Regions from separate parts of the Homo sapiens genome. Here regions 2, 3 and 4 are each linked to region 1. The links come from fine-mapping of genetic effects on gene expression. A gene starts in region 1. Each other region holds a variant in brackets. All regions are shown on one strand. Distances are from middle to middle. Region 1 holds the start of TKT (transketolase). Region 2 overlaps TKT (transketolase). Region 3 overlaps DCP1A (decapping mRNA 1A). Region 4 has its middle 38 kb from the start of TKT.

Region 1 (8,104 bases):
CTGGGTCCCCAAAGTACAGGGGACATGAAGAGGTGGGACATGACTTCCTGACACTGCCAGTCTCTTATGCAAGGTGCCCCTGCCCAGTATGGCTAGACCGGTCCTGGCATTTCAGGCTGAAGGGCAATTCAGAACTCTCTGCTTCACATTCCACTCTAGGCAGCCAGTACAATCCATCAGCACTGCCTTGGTGATCAAAGCCATTGCCCAGGAACAATACTGGGTGGCATGGCACCCCTCAGGACCCCAACCCCCCTCAGGTCCCTTTTAGTGATACTGGAGATCCCTGGGGAGTGGCTGTGGGGGACTCTTACGTGGGGACTCACACTGTTCTGGCTCCTCTAAGGGTGACCTTCTCCCTAGTGCTGCACGGGTCCTGGGGGACAGCTCAGATTCCAGAATGTGGCTCTGCTCTCAGGTCACTGTGGCCTCTGCTGGCACCTGATGCCGGCAGTAGGACATTTCTGCCACTTCCTACCCTCCAACAGAGCACCTTTGTGTCTCGGTTTCTGGAAAGGCCGGAATGAAGGACACCAGTCTGAATGGCCAGATTCCCTCCCCTGAGGCCTCCCTGATGCCCTCTTGGCTTGGGTGCAGCCCTGGCACTTGCTGACTCTGTGTCCTCAGGCACATCACTTGACATTCATGCTTTCATTCTGCAGGCATTCATTGAGCCCCTATTGTATATGAGACCCAGTTGTAGTCCCTGCGGATAGAGCCAGGGACAAGAGATTGTATTCCGGCTCTCCGGGAGCTGACCAAAGATCATGCAGATAGGCAGAGAGCCCTGCAGAGACCAAGACAGGCAGTGTGATGGGCAGCATGGCTCTAGATCCAGGCCATGTGAGGAGCCTCAGGAAGGGCTCTGCTGGCTCAGGGAGCAGCCTGTGCAAAACCTCTAGGAGGGAGTGGGCTTGGTATTTTTTAAGGAATGCGAGGTCAGTGTGGCTGAGATGGGTAGGGCTGGGGGACCTGAATTATATCCAAAGGGTGGAGGAAGAACAACATGGGAGTTAAGCTGGGGAGGAACACTTCTCTGGCAGCCATGGGGAGGGTGAACAGGAGGCTGAGAGAGGATGGGGTGTGAGGGCAGCAGGGAGCCAGATGTTAGCTGGAAGCCAGACAGGATCCCAGGGCTTTCTTCCAAGTGCCATGTGACTTCTGAGGCGTGAGGGTTCGAATAAAGACCCTGGGACCTGGGGACAAGGGAACCACCCTGGACAAACTGGGTGCTAGCAACACCTCCAGCTAGCCTAGGATTCTGGTTCTGAAGCTGACCTTCAGGAAGACCAAGAGCTCTTGAAATAAGGCTGAACCCTTGGGCCCTGTGAAAGGGAAAACACTCAAACTCTGTTTTTCCTCTGTTCTCACACCACAACAATTAACACAAAAGACTCCTGTGATCAAATGTGTGGGGGTTTCTCCCCATGCACCAAGCAAGCAACCAATTCTGCAGCAACACCAGCTGGGTGTCCTCCAACTCTATTCCATTCTGATGCTAATTACCTGGAGATAGCCTCAGAAACCACAGGTTAAGGATTCAGTCCCCCAAGAGCACCTCCTCCTTCCCATGAGTCGCAAGATTGGGACTGACCAGCTTCAAGTTGGGGTTCCCACCACTCCCTCTTTGGGTTCAATTAATTTGCTAGCGCAGCTCTCAAAACTCAGGAAAGCACATTTATCGGTTAGTTACAAAGGATATTTTAAAGGAGACAAAGAAACAGTTAGGCAAAGAGATACATAGGCGGAGGCCTGGAAAGGTCCCTAGTGAAGGAGCCATTGTCTCCATGGAGCTGGAATGTTCCACCCTCCCAGCACGTGGATGAGTTCTTGTTCACCTTCCTGTGAGCCTCCACGTGTTCCGCTGTCCAGAAGCTCCTGAACCCTGTCCTCTTGAGCCTTTCATGGACATTTCATTGGACAGACATGATTGACAACCTTGTGGAAATGTGATTAGACCAAAAGTATATGATCTAATACTAACTGACTGAGTGGGGAAACCCCGCAAGACCTGTGTGTCCTGACTCTTCTTGACCTCTCTGTGAAGCTCACTGTCTGGTAAAAGGGCAGACTCTTGAAACCTTTTGAAAACTCTGTGCCATCCAACTCTGTGGCCCTTAGGACAGTGGCTCCCTAAGGGAGTGGCCTCAATTTCCCCATCTGCCTAACGGGACTCATCCTTATCACTCTGCACCCACTCTGGTCTTCCCTCCTCATGGGTATGGGACAGAACCCCTTCTCATGGGGGTCTAATGACCTACAATTACACGAGGTAGGTGAGAGAACTTACTTATGGCCAGCTCCAAGACAGACCGGCAGGAGAAGATCCTGCCATGGGGAGAGAAAGGAGCAGGTGAAAGGAAGGTAGGAGAAGGCCTGAGAGACTCTGTTTCTGGGGTCTGCTCCTGAGGTCTAAAGCACCCCAGTGGTATAACAAGGGTTGGGGGCAGTTCTAAGCCAGGGGCCTGTATATGCATATCATAGTATCACAGGCCCCATTCATGTGGAACACCAGGAGGAGAGAGAGCCTCCCTGAGGTCCCTGGAGCTCCAGGTGGTGGGGAGGGGACAATTTTCTTTCCATTACTCCTAGGTCCCCAGAGCCATGGTGAGTTCTGTGCCATTGTCAGAGACCAGAGTGATAAGGATGAGTCCCATTAGGCAGATGGGGAAATGGAGTCCACTCCCTTAGGGAGCCACTGCTCTAAGGGCCACAGAGTTGGAAGGCACAGAGCTTTCAAAGGGTTTCAAGGGTTTGCCCTTTTTCCAGACAGTGAGCAGCTTGAGGGCAGAGGTGGCACCTGCCAGGCATCTGAGGGTGGCACACTGTGGGGCCCCCCTCCAATCCTAGCCCATAGCCCTCACCAGCCAGACACCATAGGGCCAGCCTCTGCGGGCTGGGCCAGCAGGAGCCAGGTGCTATGGGATGCCATACTTAGGGTCTGATTGGGCATCTGGGGGTCAGGCCAGCAGAGGAGCACCTGGAGGCGAGCTGGGGGACTCACTCAAATTCAGTCAATCGCCTCATGAGCCAGAGCTCTCTGAGTATGGGCAATGCAGGGAGGACACAGAGGACACAGGGCGGCCACTGGTGCCTCTTGGATCTCTCAGGGTTTTAGCTCCCTGCCCAGCCATCCGTTTGAGGGTCTTGCCTTTATCTTTCCTCTGTCAAATGGAGCTTCTTCCTCTGTAAAATAGGCATTGTAGGCAGTATGTACCTCACTGGCCAAGTGTGGTGGGCAGATTGAATGAAACAGTGTCTGTGATGAAAGTCCCCTCCCTAATCCCACTCTGGGGAGCTTCATACCTCTGGGAACCATGGGGTCTGATAACAGTAGTGGTGGGTGCCCCTGTCCCTACAGACCTGGAAGCAAACCCAATAATCTCCCTAAAAGTCAGTAGTGTTTCTAGGCCCTAATAATTTGTAAAGGATCTTCCCCTAGTAATTTCTCAGTTATCATCACCTGGCATTGTCATGGCTACCACTATCCTATTCTCATTTTCAATAATCCCCATCCCCTGTGCAGGGCTCTAAAGCCCTGAGTGGCTGGGCATGGTGGCTCATACCTATAATCCGGCACTTTGGGAGGCAGAGGAGGGCAGATGGCTTGAGCCTAGGAGTTCAAGACCTGCCTGGGTAAAGTGGCAAAACCCCATCTCTACAAAACATACAAAAATTAGCCGGGCGTGGTAGTGTGTACCTATGGTCCCAGCTACTTTTGAGGCTGAGGCAGAAGGATCACTTGAGCCCAGGAGGCTGAGGCTTCAGGCAGCTGTAATCACTCCACTGCATTCCAGCCTGGGTGACCATGGGTGACCCCGTCTCAAAGAAAAAACAAGTTTTTTAATTATTAGAAAAAAGAAATAGGGCCTGGTGCGGTGGCTCACCCCTGTAACCCCAGCACTTTGGGAGGCCGAGGCGGATCACCTGAGGTCGGGAGTTCAAGATCAGCCTGACCAACATGGAGAAACCCCGTCTCTACTAAAAATACAAAATTAGCTAGGTGTGGTGGCGCATGCTTGTAATCCCAGCTACTAGGGAGGCTGAGGCAGGAGAATTGCTTGAACTCAGGAGGCGGAGGTTGTGGTGAGCCAAGATCATGCCATTGCACTCCAGCCTGGGCAACAACAGCGAAACTCAGTCTCAAAATTAAGTCCTGCAGTCTCTTGGGCCTGGGGTTGGTCGGCTGGGGCCAAGCCTGGCACCCACCAGCCTTGTGACCTTGATTGCCCTTGCCAAGCCTCAGTTTGTCCATCTCTAAAATGGGATTCGCCGTGACAAGTCCACGGAGGACTGTGTGGAGGAGGGAGACTGAGAGGCTTTCGAGTCAGGAGCCCAGACTCGAATCCTGAGTTGTTCGTTATGTTATTATTATTGGTGTGTGTGGTTAACTGCTAACCTCGCAGTCCGCAGCGGCCCAGCGCCTAGGGGAGGGGAGCGGGCAGGAGGCGGCCCCAGGCGGGGCGGGGCTGAAGGCCTGGGGTGATCCGAGCCCCGCCTCCTCCCCCTGCCCCGCCTCTCCCATCCCCGCCCCGCCCCGCCCGGCGACTTAACGCGCCCCCGCCCCGCGCCCGGCCTCGGCAGCCGCCTGTCGCCGCGGGAGCAGCCGCTATCTCTGTGTGTCCGCGTGTGCGCCCGGTCCCCGCCTGCCGCACCATGGAGAGCTACCACAAGCCTGACCAGCAGAAGCTGCAGGCCTTGAAGGACACGGCCAACCGCCTACGTATCAGCTCCATCCAGGCCACCACTGCGGCGGGCTCTGGGTGAGTGCGCGGCGCCGGCCGGGGACGCGGCTCGGGCGGGGCGGGGGGCGTCTGCGGCGGCCAGAGTCGCCGCGGGCTCTGGGTCGCGCTGCGAGATGCCTAGACGAGGAAGGTGGCCCGGGCGCCGTCGGAGGGCGGAGACGCGCGCCTCGCAGGGCCCCGGGCTGCAGGCGGCTTCCGCTGCGCCGCACACTCGCCCTACGCCCGGGCTCGGCCGCGTGGGCCTCTGGTCCTCCGTGCGCCTCAGGCCGGCTCTTCCCCACGCGGATCGCCGGCCGCGCAGCTGCATGGTGGCGCGGGGGATGGGCTCGCGACTCGCCAAGTACCCTCTAGGGTGATGCCGGGAAGGCCACCATTACTGCTGTTCTACAGAACGCGGCCCTCTTAACCCTCTCCACCACCTGGCTGTGTGGGCGCCGCCGGGAGTGTTCCCCCTTCCAGATGGGGAAACGGAGGCTCCGAGTTAGTCAGCTACCCAAAGTTACACACAGGGAGATCTGATTTGAGCCCCAGCAGTCCGACTCTAGAGACCCTGTTTTTAATTCCTCTTGCAGGAGACTCGGGGGCCCGGCCTTCTCCCCACCTCAGACTACGCTCCCCTACCCCTGTCTCCTGCCACCCCTGGGTTGGGTCCGAGTTTGGAGCAGGGGGCTGCTGAGACGCCAGGCAGCGGCGGGGCTGATTGGGGGAAGAGGGGAGGAGGGCGGTGGCACGTGGGTGCAGAACCCTGGGATCCATTGTGAAAAGGAGGTCTAAGATTTGACCTGGGGCGGGAGGAGGCGGAGGGCAAGGAGACTGAGAAGGCTGAGCGCCGGAAGGACGGAGTTCCAGGGCCCTAGCGCCGGGAGTGACGTCCTGGGGCAGGGCCAGCCACCAGGTGCTGTATCTCCCAGGCAGGAGCTGGCGTGCCTAGGCCCCAAGATCCTTCCCTGGCCAGCCCTTTTGGCCCAGAAGGTGGACACCCAAGGAGCCTCCTCTGTAGCGGAGACAGGGATAATTAATGAGGGCCACCGTGCATGCAGCTGGAGGTGTCCAGTGGGGTGGGTGAGGGGGTCAGTCAGTGAATTACTTCAGAGCCTGCTTCCCGCTCTGTAAAGCGGGGACAGTAATGGCACTTAACCACGCTGGGTGGTTTCAAGGACTCCAGTGCTCTACTTGGAGGCTGCTTTGAGGCCACAGTGCCAGCAGTGCTCCGGGCTCATGACAGGGTTGTGAGGGCTGCGTGATGGATGATTTCTCGGGACCTTCCCAAACAAGCTCTGTTTCAGACAGACAAGATTCTGGCTTCTGGCCAATTTCATTCAGGATATATTATTAAGAAGTAAATCTGTTCACCTTTCTGGGTGGATACGCATTCACCCTTTGTGCCTCTAAGACACCCTGTTCTCAGAAGGGATTAGATGTCTTTCAAAGCCCTTCCCCCACCCACTGCCTTGCACACTTTGGACCTGTTAGCTCTCCTGGGTTTGTGTCAGTCTTACCACTTATGTGGGGTATCCCCTGCCTGGGCAGGGACCTGGCTTACTCTCAGCTCCCCTTTCACCAGCCTGGCACACGGTAGCTCTGCAGGCCTTGTATTGCTTATTTGGTACTGTTGGACCTGCTACCTTTGGCCGTTTCAGGGGGTCTGAGGTCTAGCTGGAGAGAGGCAGCAATTACCCAACTAAGTAGTATTGCACATCTGAGCATCTTTCAGGGCTAGATAAAACATGCAGATGTTTACAGGGTTCCTGAGCTGCCAAGTAGGTATCTGGTATGACACAGCATCATCGTTTGTTGCATCCTGAGAATAACCCTGTGAGATAGATTGTGTTGTATTCACATTTTATAGACGGGAACACTGAGGCTAGTGTGTTAAGTTACTTGCCCAGGCTGGGAATTGGTGGCCATTCCGTACTGTCTGGTTGGGGCTCATGCTGTCAGGAATGCTTCTTGGCAGGGCATGGTGGTTCATGCCTGTAATCACAGCACTTTGGGAGGCCAAGGTGGGAGGATTGCTTGAGCCCAGGAGTTCCAGACCAACCTGGGCAACACAGTGAGACCCCATAGCTTAAAAAAAAAATTTTTTTTTTGAGATGGAGTCTTGCTCTATCGCCCAGGCTAGAGTGCAGCAGCACAATCTTGGCTCACTGCAACCTCTGCCTCCCAGGTTCAACTGATTCTCCTGCCCTAGCCTCCTGAGTAGCTGGGACTACAGGCATCCGCCACCGCACCGGCTAATTTTTGTATTTTTAGTAGAGATGGGGTTTCACCATCTTGGCCAGGCTGGTCTCTTGACCTCAGGTGATCCACCCACCTCGGCCTCCCGAAGTGCTGGGATTACGAGTGTGAACCACTGCCCCCGGCCAAACATTTTTTTTAATTGGCTAGGTGTGGTGATGTGTACCTGTAGTCCCAGCTACATGGGAGGCTGAGGCAGAGGATCACTTGAGCCCAGGAAGTTGAGGCTGTAGTGAGCCTTGAACATGCCACACACTGCAGCATGGGTGACAGAGTGAGACTGTGTCTCAAAAGAAAGAAAGAGAGAGAGAGAGAAAGAAAGAAAGGCCAAGAAAAGAAAAATAGTTGGGCATGGTGTTACATGTATGCCAGCACTTTGGGAGGCCAAGGCAGAAGGTTCGCTTGAGGCCAGGAGTTCAAGACCAGCCTGGGTAACATTAGCAAGACCCTGTCTCCAAAAATAAATAATGTTTCGGCCAGGCGCAGTGACTCATCCCTTTAATCCCAGCACTTTGGGAGGTGTAGGCGAGTGGATCACCTGAAGGTCAGGAGATCGAGACCAGCTTGGCCAACATGGTGAAACCCTGTCCCTACTAAAAATACAAAAAATTAGCTGGACGTGGTGGCGGGCGCCTGTAATCCCAGCTACTCAGGAGGCTGAGGCAGGAGAATCACTTGAACCCGGGAGGCAGAAGTTGCGGTGAGCTGAGATTGCACCATTGCACTCTGGCCTGGGCAACAAAATTGAAACTTCTTCTCAAAAAAAAAAAAGAATGCCTCTTGGGCAAGCAGTCTGTGCCAGGCTGGAGAATGGTGAAAAAGGTGAAAGGGAAGGCCAGGTACAGCCGCGGTGGATATTAGTCAGTCTGAAAGGCACTTGGAGAGAAATAAGATTTACAAATGTAGGGTGCTCCAAAAGAGTGGAATGTCAAGTGTGTCTCCTAGTTCTTTGTTAGGCAAAGTCTGATTTCCTCACCGCCGTTACCCCTCCGGAAACATACTGTGGTGTCCGAGAGTTACACCATGTTTACATTGTAATGTCTTGGAGAGGGAAGCTCACTGAACTCAAAAAATATCCATTTGCAAAAGAAAAAAAGGATATGTAAAATACAGTGACTGTG
Region 2 (8,104 bases), 24 kb after region 1:
GGGTTGAGGGCCTTTTCCTGCAGGAGCAGGAGGGCAGCCATGTCCCCTCTGAGCCCAACCAGGCACCAGCCTCATTTCCTAGGGCTACACAGCTAGACACTGGGCAGGGTAAGGGGAGGTCCCCAAGTCCTACCACTCCTCACCCTACTTGCATGCCTGCACGGCAAGGAGCGGACAGTCTAGGCTACAGTCAGACCTGCGTTTGAATCCTGGCTCAGCAACTTCCTGACAGCGCGACCTTCAGACAAGTCCTGTCTGTTGCTGCCGTCCCTCTGCTACCCCCATCCCCTCACATCTCCCAGGCCGGGAACGTTCTGTTTGCTGGGTAATTTATCCCAAGTTCAGTGTTCTTTTTAACGTCTCACTGTCTTGAAAAGATCACAGTTGCCTGTGTTGAGGGGAGGAGAGGGCCCCTGTGGTAGAGAAAGAGCCAGGTGCAGCTTCAGTCTTGGGGTCAAGAGCTAGTCTTGGAAGCTTGGGGAGAGCCTGTCCCAGGAAGCGCCTGGTCCTCAAGTGCCCTCTGCTCTATCCTCCCCAGAGCCCTCTTGCTCCAGGGTGTTGCCTAGAGTGCCTCAGGCCTCCTTGGCCCACCTCCCTCCTCCGGGCAGAAGCAGAGCTTGGTTCCCAAGGTTCCCCTTTCCCACTGGCCCACCCAGCCAGTCCCAAGGCCTCCTCCAACCTCTGGTTCACAGCGGGGTCTGTCCCCTGCAGCAGGTGGCTCAAGCCTATTCACCCACCCTTCCTCACTTTCCTCTCATTCCAACAACCCCCATTTTTCTAGATCTTATTAGCCAGATCCCTGTTGTCCTAGACCTCTGTTTCTTAACAACCAGTACTTCTTCCTGAGCTCCTGACGTCTTCCTTCATGCCATTTTCTCTTGGGGTGTGGCTTGTGGTAGGCTGCAGGAACCTGGTGACACTGTTGCCCCTCGAGTGTAAATGCCATCTGTTCTGCATATCCATGCGTGGCTGCTCCTTTACCCAGAATGCAGGCTCCTTGGATGGGTGGGGGGGTGGGAGCCAGCTGGGTCCAGGTGAGAGGGACTGGCCTGATTCACTCTCTGTCCACAGCTACCGAGTCTATTGCTTGCTGGGAGACGGGGAGCTGTCAGAGGGCTCTGTATGGGAGGCCATGGCCTTCGCCAGCATCTATAAGCTGGACAACCTTGTGGCCATTCTAGACATCAATCGCCTGGGCCAGAGTGACCCGGCCCCACTGCAGCACCAGATGGACATCTACCAGAAGCGGTGCGAGGCCTTCGGGTATGTACGAGGCTGTGGCCTGAGTGTGGTCACAGCACGGGAGAGTGGTCTGTGATCACAGCTTTGCAGGTGCAGGTGCAGGAGCTGAAGCTGGGACCTTAAGCACCATCTAAAGGTCCCTTTCTTTAGCATTTGACTCACAATTTCAAACTCTAGGCATTTGGACTTAATGGCTCAGGATATGTGGGCCAGGCCCAGTTTTAAGTGAGTTTCCTTGTTTTCGTGGTTGTGGCATGGTGGCTCTCGGAGCTTCCACACACCATCTCACGTCAGCTCGCTTTGTTCTTGAGGAAGGAGGGTTCTTGAGGGATGGGGGCTTGCTCGGTAAAGCTAAAGGATGTATAGCTGCGGAGAGGTTTGAACCTCAGTTTGGTGGCCACGTCCTGTGCCCAGCCCCGCCCAGCCTGGGGAGGAGGAACAGGCTCCTGGTGAAATGGGAGATAGGGTTTCCAGATGCCCCCCTTCGGCCTTGATTGGTTACAAATTCAGGGTCAAAGGGCACAAAGCAGGGAGGTCAATCTGCATGGGTGTCAGCCAGAGGGGCTCCACCTCAAAGCCTCCACCGGTGTTGCCAAACACAAGCTGCTCTGCACAGGGGCCCAGCATTGGCTGAGGAGGCTGTGGAGGGGAGGGAGCAGGGCAGGTGCCGTGCAAGGCTTTGAGACTCAGGTCAGGCCTCCAGGACTGCGTTTTGCGGATGAACCCATGCCTGTGACTACACTAAGTAACAGGATGCTTGGGGTTACCTTGCAGTAGCACAGCATACGCAGGCCTGTGTTCCCTGATGACTGACCTCAGAAAGGGAGAGGAGGAAGGGAGGAAATAATCTCTGTTGGACAGGCGAGGAAACTGAGCCACAGGGTCCTCACCCCACAGGCCTCCCCAAGGCCACATCTATCTGGGGACTCAGAGTACAACCCCAGCAGCACCCCCAGGACCTGTGTCCATAACCTCGTGACTCAAGCCAGATTCCTGAAGTCCTGGCTCCACCGCTAACTTGCTTTGTGGCGTGGGTCACGTTACTTACTCCACCTTCGGTGTCTCAGTTGATTTGTCTGTACAATGGGGCCAGCTCAGCACCCAAGCATGGCGTGGTGAGGCTTCAGTGGGCTAATATGGGTAGTGGTTGGCATGGCACTCAGTTTGAGAAGTGCTATTTTTATTCTTATGTCAAAAAGAGTCCCCAAAAGGATAGCTTTTCAAGAGAAAGGGTGCTCTGCCCCAGCTCCTTCCTGTATATTTGACTCCATGGTTCATTTCAAAAACATTTCCAGCACCACATCCAGCATCTGTGGAGTGATCAAATGTGTTCCCCAAATAAGAATTGGGCCAAAAAATTCATCAAGAATCTAATAGCAGACAGATTCCAAACCCAGTGCGCTGACCCCAGAACAGCTTTCAGTAGGAAATGAGCAGATCAGGAATGAAAGAGACAATAAAGGAACTGAGCTCTGGATTACTTAAGAGGAGGAGGAAAACCTGTTCAGAGGCAAACAAAAGGAAGTAAAATAATGTGAAAAAGAAAAGGATTTAAAAAACCCAAACTGGAAACAGGAATGTTGCAAGCTTTCTACTACTCCAGCTGAGGCCGCAGTTGTGGGGTGGAGCCTGGGCAGACCCCAGCTGCCAAGGCAGACCTTTCCCTGGAAGGCTCCTCGGTGTTGTGGCCCCTGGGAATTGCCCCTTACTCTCTGCCCCCTGTCCCCAGTTGGCATGCCATCATCGTGGATGGACACAGCGTGGAGGAGCTGTGCAAGGCCTTTGGCCAGGCCAAGCACCAGCCAACAGCCATCATTGCCAAGACCTTCAAGGGCCGAGGGATCACGGGTCAGTATGCACAAGCCGCCCTCCCCACCTTCACCCCTCGCCCAGACACTGTGGCTACGTAGCTCTGACCCGCACATCCAGGGAAACAGCCCTTGCTGCTCACTGAGCTCACCAGGCTCCAGGGAAGGGGAGCGGGAGATGCTGTGACTCAGTGACCCCTGTGGCTGAGCCAGGATTTAAACTCAGATCCGTCTGGCCTCTGCCGGTGGGGGCATGTACAGGCAGGAGGAGAGGAGGGACTTGGAGGGTCTGTGGGTGAGAGGAAGGTCGTGGAGTGAGGCAGCCCCCGTGCCCCACCCTGGCTGGTGCCTTTCAGAGCTGCAGCTGTGTGTGCTCTGCCAGCTCC[G/A]GCCACCTGCTCCAGCTGAAGGGCCGACACAGAGCCAGGCAGGGCCCGGAGAGAACTGTTCCCTCCAGGAGGTGAGTGGGGTACTCCTCAAGCAATGGCAGATGCTGAGCAAGGCCTGTGTGGGCCAAGAGCCTTGGGGGGTTTGGAACCTGGGTTCTGCCCCAGGCCGGAGAATGAGGCAGGCGTAAGTCACTCCCTGGCACCCAGGTGTGGGCTTCAGATTCCTAGGCCTGGGATGGCCTCACCCATTTTAAAGATGGGAAAATGAGACTACAAGTGGTCAGGGACTTGCCCGGGGACAGAGGAAGTCTATGGCACGAGGGGGGCTGATCCCAGGGCCTGGGTCGGCTTCCCTGCCAAATGCCCCTGGCTGCCCACCTGCCTGCTCTCAGGGGTTGTGGCTTGTTCTGCCCATGTAGACTCAGGTATATGAGGATGTTCTGAGTGGGGGTTTGGCAGTGCTGGGAGGTGTCTGGGAGGGGGTGGATGTCGAGGAAAGGGCTCTGGGATATTGTCATGGCTTTGGTGCTGCTGCCTGGCACTGCCCTCTGGTGTTAAAAATGGGCAGGATCTGGACCACTTGCAGCTTCTTGGGGGCTCCTGCTAGTCTTTCGGGCTGCTGGGTGCTACCTGGGAGTTCAGTCTGTTCTTGGCTCTGGCCAGACTCTAGTGACTACTGAGGTGACCTCCAGGGAGAGGGATATTCAGCCTTCCTGGCCGCACACAACAAGGTGCCATGGGGTGGGCATGCCTAGGTGCTTATAGACTCCTCTGCTGCTCACAGATGCATTGGGTGACCCTGGAAGCCCTGTTCTGGGCCTTGGGTTCCCCTTCTGATGGCCAGGGTCCCTTCCAACCCAGTCGACAAACTGAGTATTTCTGCAGCAGACACCTCTACCTGTGTGTGACCCTGCAGGCGGGGTTGTGGGGAGGAAGAGAATGGACACATTGGTGAAGGGATGGGGCAGTGGGCCCAGAAACACACACCTGCCCACGTCTGGCCCCTCCTTTCCCACTCAGCTGTGAGCTCCCAAAGGACCAGGCAGTAGACAGTGAGTGGTGGGCACGTAGGAGTCCATCCTATTCACTGCGACCCTCCTTTCCTGGCCCCCGTGCCTGGCTGGGCTCTGCCTGTCTGGGATGATGCCATTCCTCCCTTGCCCTCGGCAGGTAGAGGGCCAGTCTCCTGGAGCAGCCTCCTGGCCCTCTGGGAGCTTCTGTCTTACCCATTCCTCTGTCCTCCCGTGTTGGGTCTGCAGGGGTAGAAGATAAGGAGTCTTGGCATGGGAAGCCCCTCCCCAAAAACATGGCTGAGCAGATCATCCAGGAGATCTACAGCCAGATCCAGAGCAAAAAGAAGATCCTGGCAACCCCTCCACAGGAGGACGCACCCTCAGTGGACATTGCCAACATCCGCATGCCCAGCCTGCCCAGCTACAAAGTTGGGGACAAGGTACAAAGTGGGGCCTGTTTCTCTGAACCCATAGTTCTCAGGTTTCCCAAGTCTGTGGCCCAGATACACCCTCTGGAGGGCTGGGAAAGGGAGGAGAGCGATTCATTTAGGGCGAGGAGTGATCCCTGAGGTGTTGTTCCTGTCACTTCCCTCAGAATGACAGACATCTCTGGAGTTGACCTGCAGAGGCTCAGACCGGGCAAGGGAATTGCCCACTTAGCAAGCTTAGCAAGCTACTGACAGAACTGAGATCAAAGCCAAGGACTCACTCCCAAGTTCTTGCATCGCTGGTCCACGAGGGACCCTTGGCCTGAGCTCAGGACCCCCACCTGACCTGGGAAAGGCTAGGCAGAGCTGTCCCACTCCAGGTTTCTGTCCCAAGGGAACCCATCCATGCAGCCTGTGCCTGGCCTTGACTCCCAAGCCTTCTGTGTTCCCATGCAAAGTGGAATAGGTTCATGGACCTGGTGCAGCAGGCGGGAAGTTGGGGCTGGTGGGTGTCTTCTGTAGCTTATACCTTTCACAGCCAGAAGGGGCCGGGGCTCCAGGGGCTCCCAAGACATTGACCGTAGTCGTTGGCAACCTTTCAGCAGTTAAAAGCCTCTGCAGGACCTTGTGCTCCAGGGCTTCCATTTTTGGCCCCGTTTTAATCCTTCTCTGAAAGCAGGGCTCCAGGCTGCAGGTGTGCACTCACCCTCAGAGGGGTCCAGAGCCTTCCCACTCTCTTCCTCACAGATAGCCACCCGCAAGGCCTACGGGCAGGCACTGGCCAAGCTGGGCCATGCCAGTGACCGCATCATCGCCCTGGATGGGGACACCAAAAATTCCACCTTCTCGGAGATCTTCAAAAAGGAGCACCCGGACCGCTTCATCGAGTGCTACATTGCTGAGCAGAACATGGTAGGTGCTGGGGCCGGCAGGGACAGGTCCACCCAAGGCTGAGGGCTGTGGTCTGAGGGGTGCGGGGCAGCCATGTTGGCAGAGCCAGGTGCCTGCTGTAGGCCAGCCCAGGGAGACTATAAGAAAAGCCAGGACCCAGCGTTAACCCCTGACCTTGAACAGCCACAGTTTGGGAGGTTCTGCCCAGGTGCAAATGTCCTGGACAGGTGTGCACATGGGGGAGCCGAATGGGACTGCAGGTGCTCTCAGGAGGAGCTGCGTACAGGCCAGGCCTGGTGGTGAATGGGGTCTCTTCCAGGTGGAGGACAGGCCTGGCCAGTAGGTGGGGCCGTGATGGGTTTAGCAGCCCGAGTCTGTAGAGCACCTGTAATGCACACGGCTCTGGGCCCTGCCACCCTGAGGGATGCAGAGATGAGGGAACTCTGGGCCCCTGACATGTACCCATTTGGGGAAGCAGACCCTTGTCAGGAACTGAGGTTGTGAAGTAAGGAACAATGTTTTGTCCATGTTTTCAAAATATCCCCTCCTGGTGGTCCAGGAGCCCAGCCTGGCTTGCAGGCCCCTAGGGACAGGGAGCTTCCTCTCTCTGGAGGGCACTCAGATCTCCAGAGTTCTTCCAACTGGACCTGAAATTCTCTCTGTGGTTTCCAGAGACTGCTCTGCAGGGCGTGGGGCTGGGGAGGTCCCAGGTACTAGGGAAAGAGGCCTTGTGTTGGCTGGCAGATTTTGGAGCCTTGAAGGGCAGCTGGTTTGGAACTGATGACTGTACTCAGTGCTGCTTCTGGATGAGTGATTTGGGGCCTGGAGCCTCAGCAGGCATGAGGCTGCTGCCCTCGGACCCCAGGGAGGGGTTGGGAGGACCGGTCTCTGCAGAAGAAGGTGGTGGGGGACATATTCAGAAGCCCAGAAAGGATGGACAATCTATATACAAATTGTGGCTTTCTCCACAAAAGGGGTCCTAGGCTCCCCGACCACCCTCTGCCTGCCCCTTTGGGCTGACCCTGTCCCACCTGCCCCCAGGTGAGCATCGCGGTGGGCTGTGCCACCCGCAACAGGACGGTGCCCTTCTGCAGCACTTTTGCAGCCTTCTTCACGCGGGCCTTTGACCAGATTCGCATGGCCGCCATCTCCGAGAGCAACATCAACCTCTGCGGCTCCCACTGCGGCGTTTCCATCGGTGAGTTTAGCCAGGGTGTTTACACCTGGAGCTCCCTTGACTTTTGCACCAGGAGGTATGGGAGGGGGATGGGCCAGGATTCCAGCCCATGGATGGGGGGGTAGGGGTCTTATTTCTGCATATCCTTTCCCCCACACCCCAGGGGAAGACGGGCCCTCCCAGATGGCCCTAGAAGATCTGGCTATGTTTCGGTCAGTCCCCACATCAACTGTCTTTTACCCAAGTGATGGCGTTGCTACAGAGAAGGCAGTGGAACTAGCCGCCAATACAAAGGTAGGTTGCATGGCTGTTCTTTCTCCTGCTGGCAGCCATCACTTCCCAAGGGAAACAGAAGAGGAGGCCAGAGCTGGTCACTTGCTGCCCCAGGGGGTGTTTCCTGACCTTGCCCCTGGTGTTCGTGTAGCTTGTGGAAGTTAGACAAGAAAAAACGAAATACACACCCCACTTACTGCCACGTGGCAGACATTGTCAACTGATTGCCAGTCTGTCTCTGCTGAGAATCCTGGCAGCCCTGGCCGGTCCAGCGGTTGACACCTCTCCACCCTCCTGAGTTGGGTTCTCCAAGACAGGCAAGGATGAGCTGAGCCCTGTGGTCCAGGCCCGGAGCTGCATGCCACAGACCCAGTGCGCGTGGTTCCTGCCCCTCTGCCTGGTGCAGTCTGTGGGAGTAGCCCACCTGCAGCCAGTCTACCTGGTGGAAAGTTGCCTTCGGTCTGAGGCTGCAAGGTGGTGGGCAGTTCTCAGAGTGTTCAAGTGGGGTGCGGGCGGCAGAGGGCAAGCAAGGCCCTTTTCCCTGCTGGAGTAGCCAGGATGCAGTAACTAACGCTCCCATGGGAAGGGATGGCCTCTCTAGAAAGACCTCGTCTCTGAGGTTGGGTGTGCCACATCCTGTATCCTCAGTTTATCTGTTTCGGTCTCAGGGTATCTGCTTCATCCGGACCAGCCGCCCAGAAAATGCCATCATCTATAACAACAATGAGGACTTCCAGGTCGGACAAGCCAAGGTCAGTGCCTCGCATGCCCCAGGAGCCCACAGAGCTGCCTGGACCCTCCCTGCTGTGACTCCCAGCAGTCAGGGCACACCCTGCCCCAGGGCCCTGAGCCTTACTCACCCTCTGTGTCACCCCCAGGTGGTCCT
Region 3 (8,104 bases), 82 kb before region 1:
AAAGAGGAAGGTTAGAGATATTGAGCTTGGGAGCATTAAAAAGGATAGTTCAAGTAGGCCTCATGAAAAAGGTGACATCTGAACAAAGGCTTGGAGGAGATGAGATAGCTGTGCAGCTTCTGGGGCAGTAATCCAGGAAGAGGTTTTTAGGTAGAAGCACACACGCAGAGAGAGTGGCAAGGAGCCCGGTGTGGCTGGAGAGTAGGAGCTGGAGAAGAGCCATAGGAAATGAAGTCAGAGTGGGGAGTATATCAGGTGGGGCCTTGGTGGCCTCAGTAAGGACTTTGGCCTTTACTCTGAGAGACTGTCTTTGGAGACTTCTCGTCAGAGGAGGAGTATGATCTGACTTAAATTTTTTGTTTACAGATGTAAGTGCTGATAATATTGTATAATGTTCTAATGCATTCTTTTTTGAAATGAAAATAAAGTACATAGTAGATAACATTTCTACAGATTAAATGGTAACTACATATTTTTTTTTCTTCTATTAAATCTAAGGTCAGCTTCCCCTTACCATGGTTTTACCATTGTGAATCGACTAAATATGCACAATCTAGTTGAACCAGTGAATAAAGATTTGGAATTTCAGCTCCATGAACCATTTCTTCTGTATAGAAATGCAAGCTGTGAGTATATCTGTTTTATTATAGTTATTACATTTAAAATTGAGTGACTTTAGTTTCTATCAATCCATTATTTAGGAAGTTTCAAATTACAAAACAAAATATGGTCTCTACTTAATGATTATAAATGAGTCTGTTGGAAAGATCAAACCTTTTAAACTGGGCTCTGAGGCCAGAGGTGGTGGCTCATGCCTGTAATCCCAGCACTTTGGGAGGCCGAGGAGGGCAGATCACTTGAGGTCAGGAGTTCGAGACCAGCCAGGCCAACATGGTGAAACCCCGTATCTACTAAAAATACAGAAAAAAATTAGCCGGGCTTGGTGGCAGGCGCCTGTAATCACTTGAACCTGGGAGGTGGAGGTTGCAGTGAGCTGAGATCGCGCCACTGTACTCCAGCCTGGGCAACAGAATGAGACTGTGTCTCAAAAAAATAAATAAATAAACTGGGCTCTGAAACTGGAAACATTCTTTTGTATATAATTTAGTTTACTATTTCATTTAATAGCACTACATTTCTGTTGTCGGTTTATTAAAATAAGGTTTATGCCTTTGTTTTTTTGCAGCTGTGGACTATCAGCTGCCCATGTCCCTAAGCAACAGAACTTAGTTTGGGACACACAGGATGGGAACAGATACAGATAATTCTTTCCACAAAGAAAGTATTATTATTACTATTATTATTTTCTTTTTTTTGAGACGGAGTCTTGCTCTGTTGCCCAGGCTGGAGTGCAGTGGTGTGATCTAGGCTCATGCAAGCTCTGCCTCCCGGATTCATGCCCTTCTCCTGGCTCGGCCTCCCAAGTAGCTGGGACTACAGGCACCCGCCACCACGCCTGGCTAATTTTTTTGTATTTTTGGTAGAGAAGGGGTTTCACCGTGTTAGCCAGGATGGTCTTGATCTCCTGACCTTGTGATCTGCCTGCCTCGGCCTCCCAAAATGCTGGGATTATAGGCATGAGCCACCACGCCCGGCCAGAAAATATTATTTTTGCCCAGAATAGTGGTGATGGGTTTTTTTTTTTAAGATATTTATTACTTTTTCTACTTTATTTTGTCTGAATATGTTTCTAAGTAAGGTTTTTCTATCTGTTTATTTAATTGAGTGTCTACTGGTTACCAGCACTGAGCCAAGAGCTGTGGTGCTTTAATGTTAACGATACAGTTACCTATGTGGTGTAAGCAGGCAGTTAAGTCAACTGAGACTCAGAGATGCATAACTATTACCCTGTTGGAGAGTTAGGATTATGACTATTCTTCTGCTTTTTAGTCCAGGGTTCTTTCAGGCATTTTTACAATCTCTAATAACGATTGGATGTAGTCAGCAAAGCTAGAGTGGCCCTTCCAAGAAACTACAGTACTAAAAAATATACTTGATTCCAGTGTATTAGTATGGATATTGAAGGTATGGGTGTTTGAGGACAGTTTGTTGGACATTGACTATAGGGATATGAAAACTGGTTATGGTAACAATGATTGTGCTCTAATTGGCATCTAAGGATATAGTTGGAGAAATGTTGCTTCTAACTTAAAAAGTAAAAGTTAATGTGTTTGAATTTCACTTGGCGGGGGGGTAATTGGTCTTGGGGGATGTCTTCAGTATAAAATAGAAAAAGTTACTAAAAATTATACACCTCTTAATTCCCTGAATGAGAAGTAACAAGGCCTATTTTAAAGCTAGAAACCCCCAAGTTCTTTTCCGTAGCACACTTTGAAGTATAAGTGAAATAGGTTCTATCTTTTGACTTCTCAGTAAACTATTTGTCCAGGTAATTACCTCTCAGATTTTAAATTCTGTGGACATATTAGACATGCTTTGTAATAGCTGTAAGTTCAGATGGATTTATTTAAACTAATGTTAACAATGTAATTATTTCAGATTGCTCTTTTCTTTGTACTGAATATTCCATTAAAGGGAAAATTCGGCTGGGCAAAGTGGCTCAACACCTGCAATCCCACGATTTTGGGAGACCGAGGCAAGCAGATTGCTTGAGCCCAGGAGTTTGAGACCAGCCTGGGCAACATGTCAAAACCCCCACTCCACAAAAAAATAGAAAAATTAGCCAGGTGTGGTGTCACACACTTGTAGTCCCAGCTACCCAGGAGGCTGAGGTGGGAAAGTCGCTTGAACCCAGGAGGCTGTCCAGGCTGCAGTGAGCCATGATTGCGCCACTGCACTCCAGCCTGGGCAACAAGCGAGACCCTGACTCAAAAAATGAAAAGAGGGTGGGAGAAATTCTGCAAATGAATATGGATCCAATTTTTTTTTAAGTGAAATAGGCTTAATTCTGTTCTTTACTGCCTGGAAACTTAATCTAGCCATCACTCCTAAGTGGTTTGATTATTAAAGTAGTCAGTAGGGAAAGTTATCCGGACCCAGTTACCATTTAGCATAAACCTGAGATGAATTGTATTATATTTTTTTCACAAGGCAAAAGTCCTGTGAAATTGAAAGTGTGACATAACACAAATGTAATTGAACCATGAGTAACCAGAAGCTAACTAATTAGAGCTTCAGTTGTCTGGAAATATTTTTATAGTTCGTGTGTGGAAGAAATGAAGGCAAATTATAAGAAAACAAGCTAATACTAGGTTTTATTTTCTGAAAATCAAGCAGATATCCAGAGAATAACCTGGGGTCGGCATTAAAATGTCAATATTTTATAACTTTAACTCCACTGTAGTATCATAGGTTAAATTGTTATAGTGAGACCTAAAATCATCAGGAGTATTTATTATGTTAACTAGAACATTCTTGGGGAGAAAGTGCATTAATGCATTTTACTTTAGAAAATTTTCAACTGATTGAAACAAAAGTTTTCTTAGTTGAACAGAAAACTCACTTAACCAGGTCATTTCATTAGGGAAAGTATTTAAAGGAATAGCTGTATTGGGGAGAAGTGATAAGACAACAGAAAATGATTTTGTGAGTGTTAAGCCCTCTCGAGTGTGTGTTTTGTCTACATAGTCTTAAAAGTGGAAAATAGTCTTGTCAGGTCAGCGAGCTATTAAGTTGTTTAGGGATTTGTTCTTTAAATAAAAAGTTAGTATCTGATTATGCATACAGGTAATTATACCTGATTCTATAGCTGCACTTCTGCCATTCTCTTGTGGGAAATACCATCAAGACACCTGACCCATTTAACTCAAGTGACACCTTCATATCCAACTTCTTTCATTCAAATTAATTTTTGGAGTTAATGTACTAGAACAGTGAACCATAACTTTTTTTCAGTTCTAAGTTATTTGTTTTATTTATTTTTAAGAGTTTTTCTTTTTTTTTTTTTTTGAGACGGAGCCTTGCTCTGTCACCCAGGCTGGAGTGCAGTGGCATGATCTTGGCTCACTGCAAGCTCTGCCTCCCAGGTTCACGCCATTCTCCTGCCTCAGCCTCCCGAGTAGCTGGGACTACAGGCGCCCACCACCACGCCCGGCTAATTTTTTCTATTTTTAGTAGAGACGGGGTTTCACCGTGTTAGCTAGGATGGTCTCGATCTCCTGACCTCGTGATCCACCTGCCTTGGCCTTCCAAAGTGCTGGGATTACAGGAGTGAGCCACCGCGCCCAGCCAAGAGTTTTTCTTTATAAAACATGCCCATCTACACCCACCCCACCCCTCAAGAAAAAGATAAAATCTTAAAGAGAAAATTCTTACACTGACTAAGGGCTTAGGCTTGGTGATTCTCTTAAATCTTTGTGGGGTAGTGGTGGTGGTGGTGGTGGT[T/GGTT]GTTTTCAAAAGACAAGGTCTCACTGTGTTGCCCAGGCTGGTCTTGAACTCCTGGGCTCAAGCAATTCTCCCGCCTCAGCCTCCCGAAGTGCTAGCATGGGCCACCATGTCCAGCCTCTTGAATCTTTTGGGAACAGTGTATTTTTATTCTGTGCAAGGGCCTTTTGGCAGTCACAAGACCCCAGTGGGATTGCAATGAATTATGGGGAGGTTATAAATTCTGGAGTTATTGAGTAGCAGTGGTATTTCTAGCACCTTATTTCTGATCCTCAACTTACAGGTTGAGAAAACAAGAGGCTCAGAGCTGTTTAGGAATCTGCTCGAGATTCGCAAAGGTAATAAGTGACAGATGGAGAATTTGGGAGTAGGTCTTTCGGGCTTCAAGGCCAATGTTCTTTCCACTCTACTGTAACAATAAAATTACTTCATCAATCCATATTCTAGAGTAGTGCTATCCACTAAAACTTTGCAATTAGGGAAAATGATAGTTCCGTGTCAGCACTGTCCCATATAGTAGCCTGCAATGTGGCTAGGGCAAATGAAGAACACTTCTTTTTAGTTTATTTAATTTAATATATTAGAATTTACATGGCTGTATGTGCTGGCAGCTGCCATACTGGACAGTGGAAGTCTCAGCATGAGCTCATGTGCTAACATGCTCTTTGTTGTGCCATACCTGAATCAAACAACTACTTGGGAAGCTTTGGCTTAGATTTTTATGCGTCCTATTTAGTCATTCCTTTTTGAAACTTACAAATGATTTCTAGATACAAAAGCTGCAGAATATATCCCTGAGGGTGGCTTTGCCATGGTAACATTCTTTTGGCATGGAATTTAGTTTGCAGATAAGAATTCTATTCTGGGCTTTGCCTTACTGACTATAACCTTGGCTAAATCATTTAAACCACTGATTTGACCTATTTATCTTAAAAGGCCATCATGAAAGTAAGGTATTTTGTTAGGCATTTACAAATACAAAATATCATAGACTGTGTCTCCATTCTAGACTCAACAAATGATCTCATTAGTGAAAGAATCCTAGGGACATCAGTGTTATCCACACCTGGCCTATCCAGATTCTCTTATAACACAGGCCTGTGATATGCTTCTTCCTATCCCTTCTGATAGTACCATGCATGAGCTGCAGGCTCTTTGTGTCTCTTTACAAGTATTATTTTCAAATGTTGTAGGGGCCATTACTAGAAAGCCTGAGGTATACATTGGAAAAATATATATATTAAAAATGAGAAGTCTTGGCCAGGTATGGTGGCTCACGCCTGTATCCCAGCACTTTGGGAGGCCAAGGCGGGTGGATCACCTGCGGTCAGGAGTTCAAGACCAGCCTGGCCAACACGGCGAAACCCCATCTCTACTAAAAATACAAAAAAATTAGCCGGACATGGTGGTGCACGCCTGTAGTCCCAGCTACTTGGGAGGCTAGGCAGGAGAATCGCTTGAACCCAGGCAGTGAAGGTTGCAGTGAGCCTAGATGGCCCCTTGGCACTCCAGCCTGGGAGACAGAGCAAGACTCCATCTCAATAAATAAATAAATAAATAAATAAATAAATAAATAAATAAATCTGGGCTTTGGGTTAGAAGGAAGATGTCTTCCTAAAAAATAACCATGGGACTTCCCTCATACAAATTTAAGGTTCAAGTTGTACCATTCATTTAGTATCATTTCTTACCCAGGTCAAGAAATTAACATAAAATTAATCATCAGCTGGTGATTACTCTACGGCATCTGGCAGAAGCAAATGTAGATCCCTTCTGGCAAGATACATTCTTAGCCCAGCCAGGTTGCCCAGGAATATCAGGCATGTCTCATGGTCTAAAATTACTAAATATACAAGGAAATACTTTGCAGTGAATGAAAGGTAGCATATAACAAACAGCAGGATTATACAACCCTTCCCAAAGACTTTAGTTCATGGAAACTAGAGACTCTAATGGATGTAAATACCAGATACAGATTATAAAATAAAGTAAAAAGAACAGCAAATGTGAAAAAAGAATAAAGGCCCTGTGCGGTGGCTCACGCCTGAAATCCCAACACTTTGGGAGGCCGAGGCAGGTGGATCACCTGAGGTCAAGAGTTCGAGACCAGCCTGCCCAACATGGTGAAACCCCATCTCTACTAAAAATAGAAAAAATTAGCCTGGCGTGGTGGCAGACACCTGTAATCCCAGCTACTCGGGAGAGACTGAGTCAGAAGAATCGTTTGAACCCGGGAGGCAGAGGTTGCAGTGAGCCAAGATCATGCCACTGCACTCCAGCCTGGGCAACAAGAGCTAAACTCCATCTCAAAAAGAAAAGAATAAAATGCTGCCAGGCACAGTGGCTCACACTTGTAATCTCAGCACTTTGGGAGGCCAAGGCGAACAGATCACTTGAGCCCAGGAGTTCAAGACCAACATGAGCAACATGGCGAAACCCTGTCTCTATAAAAAATACAAAAAATTAGCCGGGTGGACCTGGGAGGCTGAGGTGAGAGAATCACCTGAGCCCGCGAGGTTGAGGCTGCAGTGAGCCATGATCACGCCACTGCGCTCCAGCCTGGGTGATAGTGAGACCCTGTCTCAAAAAATAAAAGAATAAAAAAGAATTAAATGCTATTAAAAAAAAGGAAGATTTGAAAAATTGCTGAGTAGAACTAATAGAAATTAAAATTTTAATTGAAAGATACTCTCTACTTGGATTCAACAGTTAATTGGTAATAGCTGAAAAGAGAATTGGTGAGCTAGAAGATATATCTGAGGAAATCCAGAATGTATCCAAAAAAAGGACAAAATGGAAATATGACAGAGTGATTAGAATTATAAACTCTAACATTTGATGGATAAGAATTTCAGAATGATAAAGCAGATTTGTAGAGAGGCAATATTTGAAGCGTTGATGACTGGGAATTTTCCAGAATCCATAAAAGACATAAATCTCAGATTTAAACAATAGAATGAGCTCCAAGCATAAAACATAGAAATATTAGCCGGACACTATGGCTCACGCCTGTAATCCCAGCACTTTGGGAGGCCTAGGCAGGCTGGATCACTTGAGGTCAGGAGTTCGAGACCAGTCTGGCCAACATGGTGAAACCCCACCGCTACTAAAAATACAAAAATTAGCTGGGCCTGGTGGCGGGCACCTGTAATTCCAGCTACTCAGGAGGCTGAGGCAGGAAAATCGCTTGAACCCGGGAGGTGGAGGTTGCAGTGAGCCGGGATGATGCCACTGCACTCCAGCCTAGGTGACAGAGTGAGACTCTGTCTCAAAAAATAAATAAATAAAAATAAAAAAAATATATATATATACACATGCGCGTGCACACACACACACACACACCCAGACACATTCTGATGAGATGTCAAAGGCAGAGACAGAAGCAACCAAAGGTTGCTCAAGATTGGGTGTTTACAAAGGAACACCAGTTAGACTGACAGCATATTCCATAGTTGCAGCTACTGAGTTTAGAAGACAAAAGAATAATATATTGAGAGGACTGAAGAAAAAAAAAAACCAATAATTCAGTAATCGAAGAGAACAAAATAAAGATACTTTTCAACAAAAACAACAGCAGTTGTCTCCCCAGATTCTTGCTGTAGGAGCTCCCACAGCAGTGCTGTCAGTGCAGTAGCCACATGTGTCTATTGAGCATTTGCAGCGCGTGACGGGTAAAAGCAGACAACTGGTTTTTCTCTTTCTTACAGCCAAACGCTCCACAGTATAACATGATTAATTGAAAATATTAAGATGCAGGCTTGTG
Region 4 (8,104 bases), 38 kb after region 1:
GTCAGCTCAAGCTGCCATGAGACAGTACCATAGGCTGGGTTGCTCAAGTAACAGAAGTGTGCTTCTCACTGTGCTAGAGGCTGGGAAGTCCAAAATCAAGATGTTGCCCCTTCAGTTTCCAGCAAGGCTCTCTTCTGGGCTTGCAGGTGGCCTTGCCTCTGTGTGTGCTGGGGGCAGGAAGATCGAGCCCTCTCTGGTGCGTCTTATAGTATAAGGACACTAATCCCATCAGATCAGGGCTTCACCCTTAGGACCTCGTTTAACCTTAGTTAACTTTTTACAGAACCTGTCTCCAAATACAGTCACATTAGGGGTTAGAGCTTCAAATTATGAATTTGGGTTTGGTTGGGGGCCACAGCTCAGTCCATAGCAGCCCTCAAATCTGCCAAGTTCACAGTTCACTTCTCTCCCAGGGGCACACTATTCTGGATGTCGGAACTTGAAGTATAAGAGAAAAATGAAACTATCTTGAGATTTAAATGAGAAGAGGGGGCTGGGTGCAGTGGCTCATGTCTGTAATCCCAGCACTTTGGAGGCCAAGGCAGGAGGATCACTTTTGCCCAGGAGTTCAAGACCAGCCTGACATCATGGAGAAACCCCATCTCTACACAAAATACGAAAATTAGCTAGGCAGCAGCATGCACCTGTGGTCTCAGCTACTCAGGAGGCTGAGGTAGGAGGATCACTTGAGCCTGGGAAATGGAGGTTGCAGGGAGCTGTGAGCACACCTCTGCACTCCAGCCAGGGCAACAGAGCAAGATCCTGTCTCAAAAAATAAATAAAAGCTAGAAAGAAGGAGGGTTCTTTAAAAAGGGAGCAGAGGCCGGGTGTAGTAGCTCACACCCGTAATCCCAACACTTTAGGAGGCCGAGGCAGGTGGATCACCTGAGGTCAGGAGTTTGAGACCAGCCTGACCAACATGGTGAAACCACGTCTCTACTAAACATATAAAAATTAGCCAGGCATGGTGGTGTGCACCTGTAATCCCAGCTACTCAGGAGGCTGAGGCACAAGAATCACTTGAACCTGGGAGGTGGAGGTTGCAGTGAACCAAGATGGCATCACTGCACTCCAGCCTGGGCGACAGAGCGAGACTCTGTCTCAAAAAAAAAAAAAAAAAAAAAAAGCAGAAACCCATCAGCAGGCCACTGAGCACCCCTCCACACACGTCCAGGTCCAGGGCAGGAGAAAACCCCAATCCCCCTCCTTGATCTGGGTCTCACCTCCCAACAACAACAAAGTTTCCAACACTGGCAAATGTGGGTTTCTGCCTCAAGTCTTCATCAAAGTACCTCAGGTAGTCTTAATTAGTACAGCAAGTTGTACATGGTATGTTTTTATGTTTTTAGTGATTTCAGATCTGAACATTCTATACGTATGTTTTTCACATGTTTTCACAGGAGGAAGGGACAACCAACCAGAGAGTTTTTGTTTTGTTTGTTTGTTTGAGACAGGGTCTCACTTTGTGGCTCAGGCTGGAGTGCTGTGGTGTGATCTTGGCTCACTGCAGCCTCGGCTCCAGGGCTCAAGTGAACCTCCCACCTCAGCCCTGAGTAAGCTGGGTCTACAGGTGTGCACCACCACACCCAGCTAATTTTTGTATTCTTTGTATACACAGGGTCACCCCGAGTAAGCTCGGTCTACAGGTGTGCACCACCACACCCAGCTAATTTTTGTATTCTTTGTATACACAGGGTCTCCCCATGTTGCTCAGGCTGGTCTCGAACTCGTGAGCTCAAGCAATCCACCAGTCTTGGCCTCCCAAAGTGCTCGGATTACAGGTGTGAGCTGCTGCGTCCGGCCTACTGACCAGAGTTTTAACAAAAACTTCCCATCCATACACCACACTTTAAATTCTGGAAGTTTCCATCTCCACTCCTGTATGTCTAAAAGACTGAGAAATCCCCGAACTGGATAAGGCGCTTTATCCCTTTAAGAGTTTAATTGGAGACAAGCAGAGACCTCTGCACATGCTTGAGCCCAGGTTCCCCAGGGGTGGGGGGTAAAGGGCTTTGACATTTCCACCCCACCAGGAATTTCATTTGAGCTGATCTCTGCAACATAGATCTCAGCAATTGCCTGTCCATTCATCCTCACAGGCCCACGTTGCATTGCTTTGCAGGCGGTAGTGGCCTGCATGGAAGAGGAGCCTGCAGCGCCACCTGTAGGGCTGGGGAGGGATGGACTCATGGACCAGAGATCCTGGCTGCAGCAGTGCCTCCTGGTCGTTGTCACACACAACTGAAACTGCAAGGTACATGCTGGGACAAAGATGTCAGGCTCACTCCCTGTGAGACTAGGCAGGGCTCTCTTCCAATGACACCGGAGTTCATTGATTTTACTTTTTCCTTATTTTATTTTTTCTAAATTTTATTTAATTTTATTTTTTGAGATAGTGTCTCACTCTGTTGCCTGGGCTGGAGTGCAGTGGCATGATCTCACTGCAGCCTCGACCTCCTGGGCTCTGGTGATTCTCCCACCTCAGCCTCCTGAGTAGCTGGAACTACAGGTACATGCCATCAAACCTAGCTAATTTTTGTGTTTTTTGTACAGATGGAGTTTCACCATATTGCCCAGGCTAGTTAAATTTTACTTTTTAAAAGGCTAAACTCGAACTCCTGGGCTCAAGCAATCCTCCCACCTCAGCCTTTCCAGTAGCTGAGACTACAAACGTGCGCCACCGCACCCAGTTTGCTTTTATTTATTTTTGAGACGGAGTCTCGCTCTGTCACCCAGGCTGGAGTGCAGTGGCGCGATCTCGGCTCACTGCAAGCTCCGCCTCCCGGGTTCACGCCATTCTCCTGCCTCAGCCTCTCCGAATAGCTGGGACTACAGGCGCCCACCACCACGCCTGGCTAATTTTTTTTTTGAATTTTTAGTAGAGACGGGGTTTCACCGTGGTCTCGATCTCCTGACCTCGTGATCCGCCCGCCTCGGCCTCCCAAAGTGCCGGGATTACAAGCGTGAGCCACCGCGCCCCGCCTGCTTTTATTTTTTATTGACACATAATAACTGTATATATTTATGGGTTACAGTGTGATATTTTAATACATGTATACAATGTTTAGTGATCAAGGTAATTAACATATCCATCACTTCAAACACTTATCATTTCTTTGTGTCAGAAAGATTCAAAATCCACTCTTTGGCTGGGTACAATGGCTCACGCCTGTAATCCCAGCACTTTGGGAGGCCGAGGCGGGCGGATCATGAGGTCAGGAGTTCAAGACCAGCCTGACCAACATGGTGAAACCCTGTCTCTACTAAAAATATAAAAAAAATTAGCCAGGCATGGTGGCTCGCACCTGTAATCCCAGCTACTCAGGAGGCTGAGGCAAGAGAATCACTTGAACCAGGGAGGTGGAGATTGCAGTGAGCCAAGATCGTGCCACTGCACTCCAGCCTGGGCAACAGAGCGAGACTTCATCTCAAAAAAAAAAAAAAAATCCATTCTTCTCGCTATTTTAAAATATAATTCAATAACAATAAATTGTTAATTATGGTCAGCCTACGGTGCTATGTAACACTAGGACTTATTCCTCTGACCTAGCTGTACTTTCATATCTGTTAACCAGCCTTTGGTGGTTTTACTTCCTAAATGATCCCAAACGTGCCACCTTCTGCCCTCATCCTGGTCCAGACCTCCATCATCTCTCCTGAGAGGGAGCAGTCAATGGCCTCCCAGTTGCCTCTTGATCTCCCTGCTCTCCCTGCTCATTCTCTACACAGCAGCCCCACAGAAACTTCTAGAACCTGACACAATGGCTCTTCTGCTCACACATCCCCACTCACACATGGCTGCCAGTGGATGAAGCCTTTTCTGACCCTTTCCAGCCTCATCTCAAATCTTCTCCTCCTCACTTCCCAGACCCCAGCTCTGGCCCAGCTCCTCTTAGTTCCTCAATGGTCTCTCTCACTT[C/T]CTCTTCTGCCTACCCACCACCCCCCAGTCTGAGTTGGTGCCCGAATGCTTAGGACTGAGGAAAACAAAAGTTGGTTTGGCAATAGGAAGAATGGTGACCCAAGATGGGAAAGAGAGGGCTGGATGGTATGGTGGGAAGGGGGGTCAGGAAAGGCTCCTGGGAGGAGAGGGCATCCAAGCCGAGGCTTCAGGTGTGGACTGGGGGTCTGAGAGTGAGCTGTGGGGGGCTGGGGTTGGAGTTGGGGTACCCATTCCAGGAGGAGTCCTATTTGGGTAACAGCAAACATCTAGTTTGACTAGAAGGCAGGTGTAGGGGACAATGAAATGAGTGTGGGAGACGGAGCCTTGAATGCCAGGGGACTAGAACCTGGTCAGTCACAGGGAATCAGATTCCAACCCCGGGTGGCCTCAGGCAAATCTCCCACCCATCAGAAGGGCCTCTGCTTCCTCACTGATAAGACAAGATATTGTTGGCAGGGCACTGTGGCTCATGTCTGCAATACCAATACTTTGGGAGGCTAAGGTGGGAGGATCGCTTGAGCCTGGGAGTTCAAGATCAGCCTGGGTGACCTGTTTCTACAAAAAATACAAAAATTAGCTGGATGTGGTGACGCACACCTGTGGTCCCAGCTACTCAGGAGGAGAGCTTGAGGTTGGGAGGTCAAGGCTGCAATGAGCCATGATTGAGCCACTGCACTCCAGCCTGGGCAACAGAGTGAGATCCTGTCTCAAAAAAAAAAGGCAGGATATTGTCACAGTCCCTACCTTACAGAAGATTGCACACTTTATAGCTCAAATAATACTCAAGCCAGATCTCAAGGTACTAAACACACATTTGGGATAGGGGTGATGGACAGGCAGAGACTTGAGCCAGGGCTGCCTGGTTAGCCACCCCGAGGGCCAGTCCCAGCTTCCTCACCAACCACTGAGAGATCCCAAGTATGTCCTGCCCTCTTTTGTCCTGGTGTCCCCAAGAGAGAGAAGAAACAGAGTCCCCAGGCATCTGGTAAGAGCCCAAAGCTGCCTGTCCCAGGCTCAAGATATCTCCAAGGAATCCTCCGAGGATTTTAAGGGTAAACTTAAAATTCCTGCAGATTTTGCACTCTGCTCTATAACATCCAGTTTTACTATAAAAATAATATTTTGCATCACTTATTCATAGATTTGGTATTATTCCTCCCTTAAATGTTCAATAGAATTCTCCAGTGAAGCCATCTAGGTCTGGAGTTTCCTTTGTGGGAAGGCTTTTAACTTCAAATCCAATTCCTTTCACAGACATGGGCTGATACGGTTTGGCTCTGTGTAGCCAAATCTCATTTCAAGTTGTAATCCCCACGTATCAGAGGAAGCACCAGGTGGGAGGTAATTGGATCATAGGGGCAGTTTCCCCCATGCTGTTCTCATGATAGTGAGTGAGTTCTCAGAGAGCCGATGGTTTTAAAGTGTGGCACTTCCTTGTTCTCACACTCACTCTCTCCTGCTGCCTTGTGAAGAAGGTGCCTGCTTCCCCTTCCCCTTCTGCCATGATTGTAAGTTTCATGAGGCTCCCATAGCCATGCAGAACTGCAAGTCAATTGAACCTCTTTCCTTTATAAATTACCCAGTCTCAGGCTTTTTTTTTTTTTTTTTTTTTTTTTTTTGAGACAGAGTCTTGCTCTGTTGCCCAGCTGGAGTGCGGTGGCACAATCTTGGCTCACTGCAGCCTCTGCCTCCCAGGTTCAATCAATTCTCCTCCCTCAGCCTCCTGAGTAGCTGGGACAATAGGTGCGTGCCACCATGCCCGGCTAATTTATTTTTAGTAGAGACGGGGTTTCACTACGTTGGCCAGGCTGGTCTCGAACTCCTGACTTCAAGTAATCTGCCCTCCTTGGTCTTCCAAAGTGATGGGATTATAGGTGCGCACCACCATGCCTGGCTAATTTTTTTATTTTTAGTAGAGACAGGGTTTCCTCATGTTGGCCAGGCTGGTCTCAAACTTCTGACCTCAGGTGATCCACCTGACTCAGCCTCCCAAAGTGCTGGGATTACAGGTGTGAGCCACTGCGCCCAGCTTAGATTATGTTTCTTGAGTGAGTTTTTGAAGTTTGTATCTTTCAAGGAATTTGTTCATTTCATCTAATCTGTACTGAGCATCCCACAAATTCTGAAATGTCGTATTTTCATTCTTTTCAAAATGCTTTCTAATCTCCTATTTGATTTCCTCTTTGATCCAAGGATTATTTAGAAGTATATTGTTTAGTTTTCAAATATTTGGGGACTTTCCAGAGATCTTTCTATACTGACTACTAATTCAATTCCATTGTGGTTAGAAAACATACTTTGTGTGTCTTGAATTCATTTAAATGTATTGAGAATTGTTTTGTGACCCAGAGTATGTGTACTTGAAAAGAACGTGGATTCTGCTGTTATTGAGTCAACTCAGTGATAGTGTTGTTCAAATCTTCTCTATCCTTATTGATTTCTGTCTACCTGTTTTATTAATTATTGAGAGAGGGGTGCTGAAATTTTCAAAGTTAATTGTGAATTTGTCTATTTCTTCTTGTAGTTCTATTCATTTTAGCTTCAAGTATTTTGAAGCTGTTATTAGGTTTTAGGATTGCTAGATTTTTTTTTTTTAAGTGAAAGCAAGTTTATTAAGCAAGTAAAGGAGGCTGGGCGCGGTGGCTCACGCCTGTAATGCCAGCACTTTGGCAGGCTGAGGCAGGCAGATCACGAGGGTCAGGAGTTCAAGACCAGCCTGACCAACATGGTGAAACCTCATCTCTACTAAAAATACAAAAATTAGCCAGGCGTGGTGGCTTGCACTCATAATCCCAGCTACTCAGGAGGCTGAGGCAGGAAAATCGCTTGAACCCGGGAGGCGGAGGTTACAGTGAGCTGAGATCGTGCCATTGCACTCCAGCCTGGACAACAGAGCAAGACTCTGTCTCAAAAAAAAAAAAAAAAAAAGAAAGTACAGGAATAAAGAATGGCTACTCCGTAGGCAGAGCAGCTGAATTGCTAGATTATTAGGATTATTGGGTTTTTAGAATTGTTATTTGTTATGTTCTCTTGATGAATTGACATATTATTTTGAAATGACCCTCTTTATCCCTGGTAACATTCTCTGTCCTGAAATCTACTTTATCTGATATTAGTATAGCCACTTCAGTTTTTTTAGATTAGTGTTAGCATGGTGCATAATTTTCTGTTCCTTTAGCTTCACACTATTTGTATGTATATTTTATTTCTTTAAAAAAGTGATGGGGTCTCACTCTTGCTCAGGCTGGAGTGCAGTGGCACAATCATGGCTCGTTGCAGCCTTGAACGCTGGGGCTCAAGTGATCCCCCTGCCTCAGCCTCCTCAGTAGCTGGGACTACAGGCACATGCCACCATGCCTAGTATTTTTTATTTATTTCATTTATTTTTCATTTATTTTTATTTATTTATTTATTTTTGAGACAGGATCTGGCTCTGTCACTGGGCAGGAGTGCAGTGGTGTGATACTGGCTCACTGCAACCTCCGCCTTCTGGGTTCAAGCGATCCTCCCACCTCAGCCTCCTGAATAGCTGGGACTACAGCCTAATGCCACCATGCCTGGCTATTTTTTTTTTTTTTTTTTTTTTTGAGATGGAGTTTTGCTCTTGTTGCCCAGGCTGGAGTGCAATGGAGTGATCTCAGCTCACCGCAACCTCCGCCCTCCCAGGTTCAAGCGATTCCCCTGCCTCAGCCTCCCAAGTAGCTGGGATTACAGGCATGCACCACCATGGCCAGCTAATTTTTGTATTTTTAGTAGAGATGGAATTTCTCCATGTTGCCCAGGCTGGTCTCGAACTCCCAACCTCAGGTGATCTACCCACCTCAGCCTCCCAAAGTGCTGGGATTATAGGCATGAGCCACCGCACCCAGCCCCTTTACTTTTTCTTTTTCTTTTTTTTTTTTTTTGAGATGGAGTCTCGCTCTGTTGCCCAGGCTGGAGTGCAGTGGCACGATCTCAGCTCACTGCAAGCTCTGCCTCCTGGGTTCACACCATTCTCCTGCCTCAAACTCCTGAGTAGCTGGGACTACAGGCGCCCGCCACCACACCCGGCTAATTTTTTTGTATTTTTAGTAGAGATGGGGTTTCACCGTGTTAGCCAGGATGGTCTCGATCTCCTGACCTTGTGATCCGCCCACCTCAGCCTCCCAAAGTGCTGGGATTACA

What was found.
Region 2: its variant is fine-mapped to the expression of TKT in whole blood (INTERVAL, PIP 0.91).
Region 3: its variant is fine-mapped to the expression of TKT in whole blood (INTERVAL, PIP above 0.99).
Region 4: its variant is fine-mapped to the expression of TKT in whole blood (INTERVAL, PIP above 0.99).

The regions. Positions count from the first base shown.
Region 1 is chr3:53,252,495-53,260,598 of GRCh38, reverse strand. It overlaps TKT (transketolase), which reads left to right and starts at 4,577. Exons shown (of 14, transcript NM_001064.4): 1 at 4,577-4,763. The coding sequence starts at 4,657. RefSeq lists silencers at 1,732-2,026, 4,291-4,980 and an enhancer at 1,732-2,026.
Region 2 is chr3:53,228,142-53,236,245 of GRCh38, reverse strand. TKT (transketolase) reads left to right here. Exons shown (of 14, transcript NM_001064.4): 5 at 1,072-1,263; 6 at 2,972-3,090; 7 at 4,696-4,889; 8 at 5,625-5,789; 9 at 6,810-6,966; 10 at 7,109-7,239; 11 at 7,887-7,970; 12 at 8,097-8,104. Among named protein-coding and RNA genes, the nearest start is that of TKT, 24 kb to the left of the region's middle. RefSeq lists an enhancer at 7,118-8,104. The variant G/A (reference allele first, on the strand shown) is at 3,437.
Region 3 is chr3:53,334,666-53,342,769 of GRCh38, reverse strand. DCP1A (decapping mRNA 1A) reads left to right here. Exons shown (of 10, transcript NM_018403.7): 3 at 499-626. Among named protein-coding and RNA genes, the nearest start is that of SNORD38C, 5.6 kb to the right of the region's middle. The variant T/GGTT (reference allele first, on the strand shown) is at 4,345.
Region 4 is chr3:53,214,138-53,222,241 of GRCh38, reverse strand. No RefSeq gene overlaps it. Among named protein-coding and RNA genes, the nearest start is that of TKT, 38 kb to the left of the region's middle. RefSeq lists a silencer at 2,263-2,312. The variant C/T (reference allele first, on the strand shown) is at 3,920.